Regions from separate parts of the Homo sapiens genome. Here region 2 is linked to region 1. The links come from fine-mapping of genetic effects on gene expression. A gene starts in region 1. The other region holds a variant in brackets. All regions are shown on one strand. Distances are between the middles of the regions. Region 1 holds the start of TMEM120B (transmembrane protein 120B). Region 2 overlaps TMEM120B (transmembrane protein 120B).

What was found. PIP is the estimated chance that this variant, and not a neighbour inherited with it, causes the effect. A credible set is the group of variants that fine-mapping cannot tell apart.
Region 2: its variant is the best candidate, but not a certain one, in a credible set for the expression of TMEM120B in lung (TOPMed, PIP 0.81).

The regions. Positions count from the first base shown.
Region 1 is chr12:121,711,187-121,714,087 of GRCh38, reverse strand. TMEM120B (transmembrane protein 120B) reads right to left here and starts at 1,336. Exons shown (of 12, transcript NM_001080825.2): 1 at 1,124-1,336. The coding sequence starts at 1,192. RefSeq lists silencers at 865-994, 1,175-1,224, 1,235-1,494.
Region 2 is chr12:121,780,516-121,783,402 of GRCh38, reverse strand. It overlaps TMEM120B (transmembrane protein 120B), which reads right to left. Exons shown (of 12, transcript NM_001080825.2): 12 at 1,335-2,887. It overlaps RHOF (ras homolog family member F, filopodia associated), which reads left to right. Exons shown (of 5, transcript NM_019034.3): 3 at 2,211-2,320; 4 at 2,397-2,531. Among named protein-coding and RNA genes, the nearest start is that of RHOF, 12 kb to the left of the region's middle. RefSeq lists enhancers at 1,321-1,390, 1,431-1,490. The variant A/G (reference allele first, on the strand shown) is at 1,522.

The DNA of each region.
Region 1 (2,901 bases):
ATTCCTGCCCCGGCTCTCCAGCAACCCTCTGTCTATTGATCAGAATCTACAACCACGTGTCTAGAAAGACCCATCAGAGACACCCTTGGCAACCTCCTCTCCCCTCTGCACACTGTAGGAGGCCAACTGAACTGCAGACAAGAGGTACATGGACAGGGACAATGTCACTGCTCCAAATGAGAGGACTGGGGTGATAGTGTGCAATGTAATTTCAGGCAAAGCCAACCCCCCGAAAAACAATCCCGTGACTGGAGAGGGAACAGCCCTGTCTTCAAAAATAGTCACCGAGTCCCTCTTGGTCAACCCCAAGGTTTCCTGAGGCGTCTCTAGTCAACACGGTAGGTAGCTGGGGCCTCTCTGAACCTCTTAGCAGGAACAACTGCTGCCAGGACCGCTCCCCACACCCAGCAGCAATGCCATTCTCTCAGGGGACCCCCGCCTTACACCCGCCCTCACTCCACCCCGTGTAAGGCTCCGGGCCAGAAGGATAGAGCTGGGAGTTTCCCCTATCACTGGGTGAGGCTACTCAGCTGTCCGAACTGACAGATGCTCTCCACGCCAAAATCAGCCTGCAGCAGCGTCAGAGCCCCCAAAGACAGGAAATAGGGGTCCCTAATCCCCAAGCACAACCTAGAGGTTCAAGGTGAACAGCTCTTAAGTACACCTCCCAAAACAGAGCTGCAGGATAGTGCTGCCCCGCCAGAGCACGGGGTGGGAGCTGAGCTACCAAAAGCAGATGGGAGGGGGCGGGGTGAGATCTGGGGAGACCCTGCAGAGGTGGGGGCTGGGCTGTTCTCTTTGAACCACCCCCACAGATGAACACGCCTGGAACTTGCCTCAGAGGCCACAGACCAACTTTCTGCAGCGAAGGGGGTGCGTGGAGCAGAGAGCCAGTGGGAGGGCGGCGGAAGAGGGGGCTGCGACCCGGCGCCCCACGTGGACGAAGAGCTGAAGCGCCGGGTGATGGGAGGGGGCTGGTCCATGCCTCCCGTCCGCCCCCAGGGCCTCTCCGGGGCACTCCCTAGGCCCTGACTGTCCCCACCGCCCGGGCCGGGGGGCTCAGGAAGGGCAAGGCGCTGCACCGCGGGCAGCAGAGTTGCGGGACCAGGTGGCCTGGCCCTACCTGCAGTTCTTGAAATTCTCCCTCCAGCTCGTGCCATTCGCGCTCGCAACGCTCCAGCTGCCCGGACATGATGCGATGGTGCAAGGCGGCGGTGCCGGCGGCTGCTCCCGCAGCGCTGCCCGACCGGCCCCCCAGCGCCCCACGCCCGCGCGCTCGCCGACCGCCCTCGGAGGCACCAGCTGTTCCTGCGCAGCCAGAGCCACGCGCGCAACTGACGTCACGGCCCCGCCCCGGCGCCCGCCCCGCCCCACGCCTGGGAGGCGGGGCCGCGCGTGCGCATGTGCCCCGCCCCGCCCCGCGTGCGGCGTTCCGGACCGGGACATGGCAGGCTCGCAAGGTCTTTCGGGGTCTGTTGCGGCCCCCTTGGCAGTGCCTCTGCGCCTCCAGAATCTGTCTCTTCCAGGAAGAGTTGGGGGACTTGTCTGCAGGTTGCATTTGCAGAGATTATTTGACTTAGATTGTGTGTTTTGGGGGTGTCTAGAGTTTGGGGAAAGGAGATTTGGGGGAGGTGAAATGAAAGCTCACCGGCCCCTGGTCATTGCCTGACTTGAGCCCAGGCCAGCGCCCCGGAAGGCTGGCGCTGACATCGACCATCCAAAAAGGTCGGGGGCCGGGCGGCGCAGCGCAGAGAGGGCACGGTCATTTCACGTTGTCATTATTATGTGCTGCAGCTAATACATCCTAGATTCCTGCCCTCTAACGCTCTGGGTGACGTTCTTAACAGCTGTTTCTGTCGCTCAAGGGACAACCGCCTCCAAGCTGATTAAATCCAGTTCTGTCCCCTCCTCTGCCAAGTCCTGCAAGAACTGCCCCTGCCTAGCTTTCCAGTCCCTTCTATCTCACCGCCCTGGACTCGTACCCTCCAGCCATTGCTTTTTCTCTTCCTGACCTTGCATGGAACTTTCTTCCCTCTAAATCTTCATACGATGTGCCTTTTTTTCATCATTCAGGCCTCAGTTTCAAATGACACCTGTGTTACTTTACTTTTTTATCTTTCTTTTTTCTTCTATTTTTATGGGTGTTTTTTTTTTTTTCTGTCGCCTAGGCTGGAGTGCAGTGGTGTGATCTCAGCTCACTGCAACTTCCGCCTCCCGGAATCAAGTGCGTCTCATACCTCAGCCTCTGGAGTAGCCAGGTTATACCACATCCAGCTAATTTTTGTATTTTTAGTAGAGGCGGGGTTTTGCAGTGTTGGCCAGGCTGCTCTCGAACTCCTGACCTTAAGTAATCCGCCCGACTTGGCCTCCCAAAGTGCTAGGATTACAGGCATGAGCCACCGTGCCCGGCCCCCTGTGTTCGTTGCTAAAGCTGCCATAACCACAACCTGGGTAGTTTAAACAATAGAAATGTATTCTCACCAACGGGGGCAACATAAGGAGACCTTGTTTCTACAAAAAATTTACAGATTAGCTGGGTGTGGTGGCACGCGCCTGTGGTCCCAGCTACTCCGGAGGCTGAGGTCCAAGAATTCCTTGGGCCTGGGAGGTCAAGGCTGCAGTAAGCTATGATTGCACCACTGCACCCCAGCCTGGGTAACAGAGCGAGACCCAGTCTCATAAAGAAAGAAGGAGGCCGGGCGCGGTCGCTCACGCTTGTAATCCCAGCACTTTGGGAGGCTGAGGCAGGAGGATCACCTGAGGTTGGGAGTTCAAGACCAGCCTGACCAACATGGAGAAACCCCATCTCTACTAAAAACACACAAAAAAATTAGCCAGGTGTGGTGGCACATGCCTGTAATCCAGTTACTCAGGAGGCTGATGCAGGAGAATCACTTGAAC
Region 2 (2,887 bases), 69 kb before region 1:
TTGCAGTGAGCTGAGATTGGGACACTGCACTCCAGCCTGGGTGACAGAGCGAGACTCTTGTCTCAAAGAAAAGGTGGGGGGGGGGGCAATAGGGAGCCATTGAAGATGCTTCAGTTGTGGAGAGGGGGCCAGGATATGACTTGTGTTTTAAGATCCATCCAGCTGTCAGGTGGATAATGGATTCATCAAAGGGCTGCAGGAGGCAGGGAAGAGGGACAGACGAGGACTTAGATGAGGATGGTGTAGGGGCGGGGGGTGGCCAGCAGTAGACAGGGGCCCACCGTCCAGTAGAACTTTCTGCAGTGGAGGAAATGCCGTGCACCTGCCCCAATCACTGCATTAGCCATGAGCCCCGGGCGGCAGTTCATCACCTGAAATGAGGCTTGTGCAACTGAGGCGTTGAATGCTTTATGTTAATTCATTTTTTATTTTTATTTTTATTTTTTTTGAGACAGAGTTTCGCTCTTGTCACCCAGGCTGGAGTGCAATGGTGTGCCTTGGCTGGTGACAGCCCCGTGAGGTAGATTTTATGATTTTCATGTCCCAGATGGGGAAGCCAAGACTCCCACCACTGTCCTGTCTAAGTCAAGGTCACACAGCCAGTGAGGGCAGAGCTGGGATTTGAACATGTGTCTCATCTGTCTCTAGTGACCTCACCCTTAAGCACTGTTCCATGGGGGAGCTGGCTGAAGACTTTTGGAGGTCCCTGGGTTGAGGGGGATCCAGTGGGGAGAGGGTGGCCATGCCCCATCACCAGCAAGGGGTTAGGAGCAGACATGGCCTGGTGGTACTCCGTGGAGAGGCCACTTGTCCTGAGAGGTGTCTGGCAGAGAAGGAACGGGGGGCAGGCTGGTGCCACCCAGCACCTGCAACAGCTGCGGACAGGGCAGGGGGATTCCTGGGCCTCCACGTTCCTTGTTCAGTGGAAGGAAGTGGAGGGGCGGGGGGCTGGTCACCAATGAGCCTGAAAAGCTCTCAGTTCTCACTGTGGGGATTTTAAAAAAATACCGGGGCAGGATGACTAAGTGCAGTGTAGAACCCTGGGCTGGGCTGGCTCCTCAACGGGGAAAAAAATAAAGGACAATATTGGTGAAATGGTCAAAATCTGACTATGGTCTGTGGATCAGATTAGAATGCAGAGTCCATGCGGTTTCTGGGGGCTTGGGGCAGGGGAGAGAACGCCCTTGTTCTCAGCAGATAGGCGCTGAGCTAAGGGGTGAAGAGGCAGATGTCTACAGTTACCGTGCCCTGACAGGGAGAAACAGAAGTGTCTGTCTCCAGATAAAGTCAGAGGGGCCAATGCAAACAGGTGGTGAATCACAGTCAGAGAGCTCTTCATACTCGTGTTGCAATTTTACTGTAAGTTTGAAACTGTCAATACAAAAAGTTACAAAGAATTGTTTATAAAGAAGAAGAAGAAAAAAGCAAACCCAACCAAGCTCAAGCCTAGATCCGTATTTGGATTCAGCTCGTCTCGGGGCGGAGCCAGGCGTCACGGCCTCCGGATTAAAGTATCCCCCC[A/G]GGGAGTGTGCTCTGTGAATCTGGGTGGGGAGGGCGCTCGGTGCTGTTCCCAGCAACCCACCACCCTCCTCCTAGTGCTTGCAAGAATAGGCAGGGAACTCAGCTGACTGCATCAGAACCTGAGAAGCTGGAGGCTGAAGCCAGACACCAGCCTCTCAGGACTTGGGGACACTATGAGCCCACTCAGCCCCACAGGTCTGAATCTTTGGGGAGGGGAGGGTTCCAGTCTGCACTCTGCCCTTGACCATCAGGGCAGGGGGATCACACTGGCTATCGGCATCATCTCTAGCAGTTTCTCCAGCCCCAGCCCTAGAATCAGGCCAAGCTCTCAGCACTGCGTGGGTTTGATCTTGAGGATTCTTTACCACCATCCAGGACTGGGGGGCTGCCGCTCATGGGTTTTGTTGTTAAGAGACAGGGTCTCGCTCTGTCACCCAGGCTGGAGTGCAGTGGCATGATCACGGCTCACTGTAGCCTTGACCTCCTGGGCTCAAGCGATCCTCCGGCCTCAGCCTCCCGAGTAGCTGCGACCACAGGCCTGTGCCAGCACTCCTGGCTTGCTGCCCATTGTATAGATGAGGAAATTGAGGCCCTAAGGCAGGGTCACTTGCCTGGCCCCTTCCCCTTCACCCGTCAGAGTCCAGACAGGGAGGGGACGTCCCCTGACCCCCGCTGCTCTGTGCTTTCAGGGCAAGAAGACTATGACCGGCTGCGGCCCCTGTCCTACCAGAACACCCACCTCGTGCTCATCTGCTATGACGTCATGAATCCCACCAGCTACGACAACGTCCTCATCAAGGTGAGGCCGGCCTCCTGGGTGGTGGCCCCACATCTGGGCCCGGCCGCACCCCTGATCCCGCCTCCTCCCTCCACAGTGGTTCCCTGAGGTCACGCATTTCTGCCGCGGGATCCCCATGGTGCTCATCGGCTGCAAGACAGACCTGAGGAAGGACAAGGAGCAGCTGCGGAAGCTCCGGGCCGCCCAGCTGGAGCCCATCACCTACATGCAGGTGGGCCGGGGCCAAGACCCTGGGGCACAGCCGTGGCTGTGAAGCCTCCCGGACCTTTGGCCTCTGCAACTGGGGTGCCTTAGTGGCCTTTCAGGGAGCTGAGGGAAGCAAGATTCTAAGAATAATTTTTAACTATTAGTATTGATGGCCTGTGGACCTGAGCACTTTACACGACTACTCCCAATCCTTAGGACTCGGAGGCAGGCGCTGTTCACATCCCCCAGTTTACAGGGGGAGAAACTGAGGCCCAGAGAGGTTAAGCAGCTTGCCCAGGGCCACACAGCTAGCGAGAAGTGGAGCCAGGATCTGGTCCCATCCACTGCAATCCAAAGTCTGTGCTATGAGCCGCCGTCCTG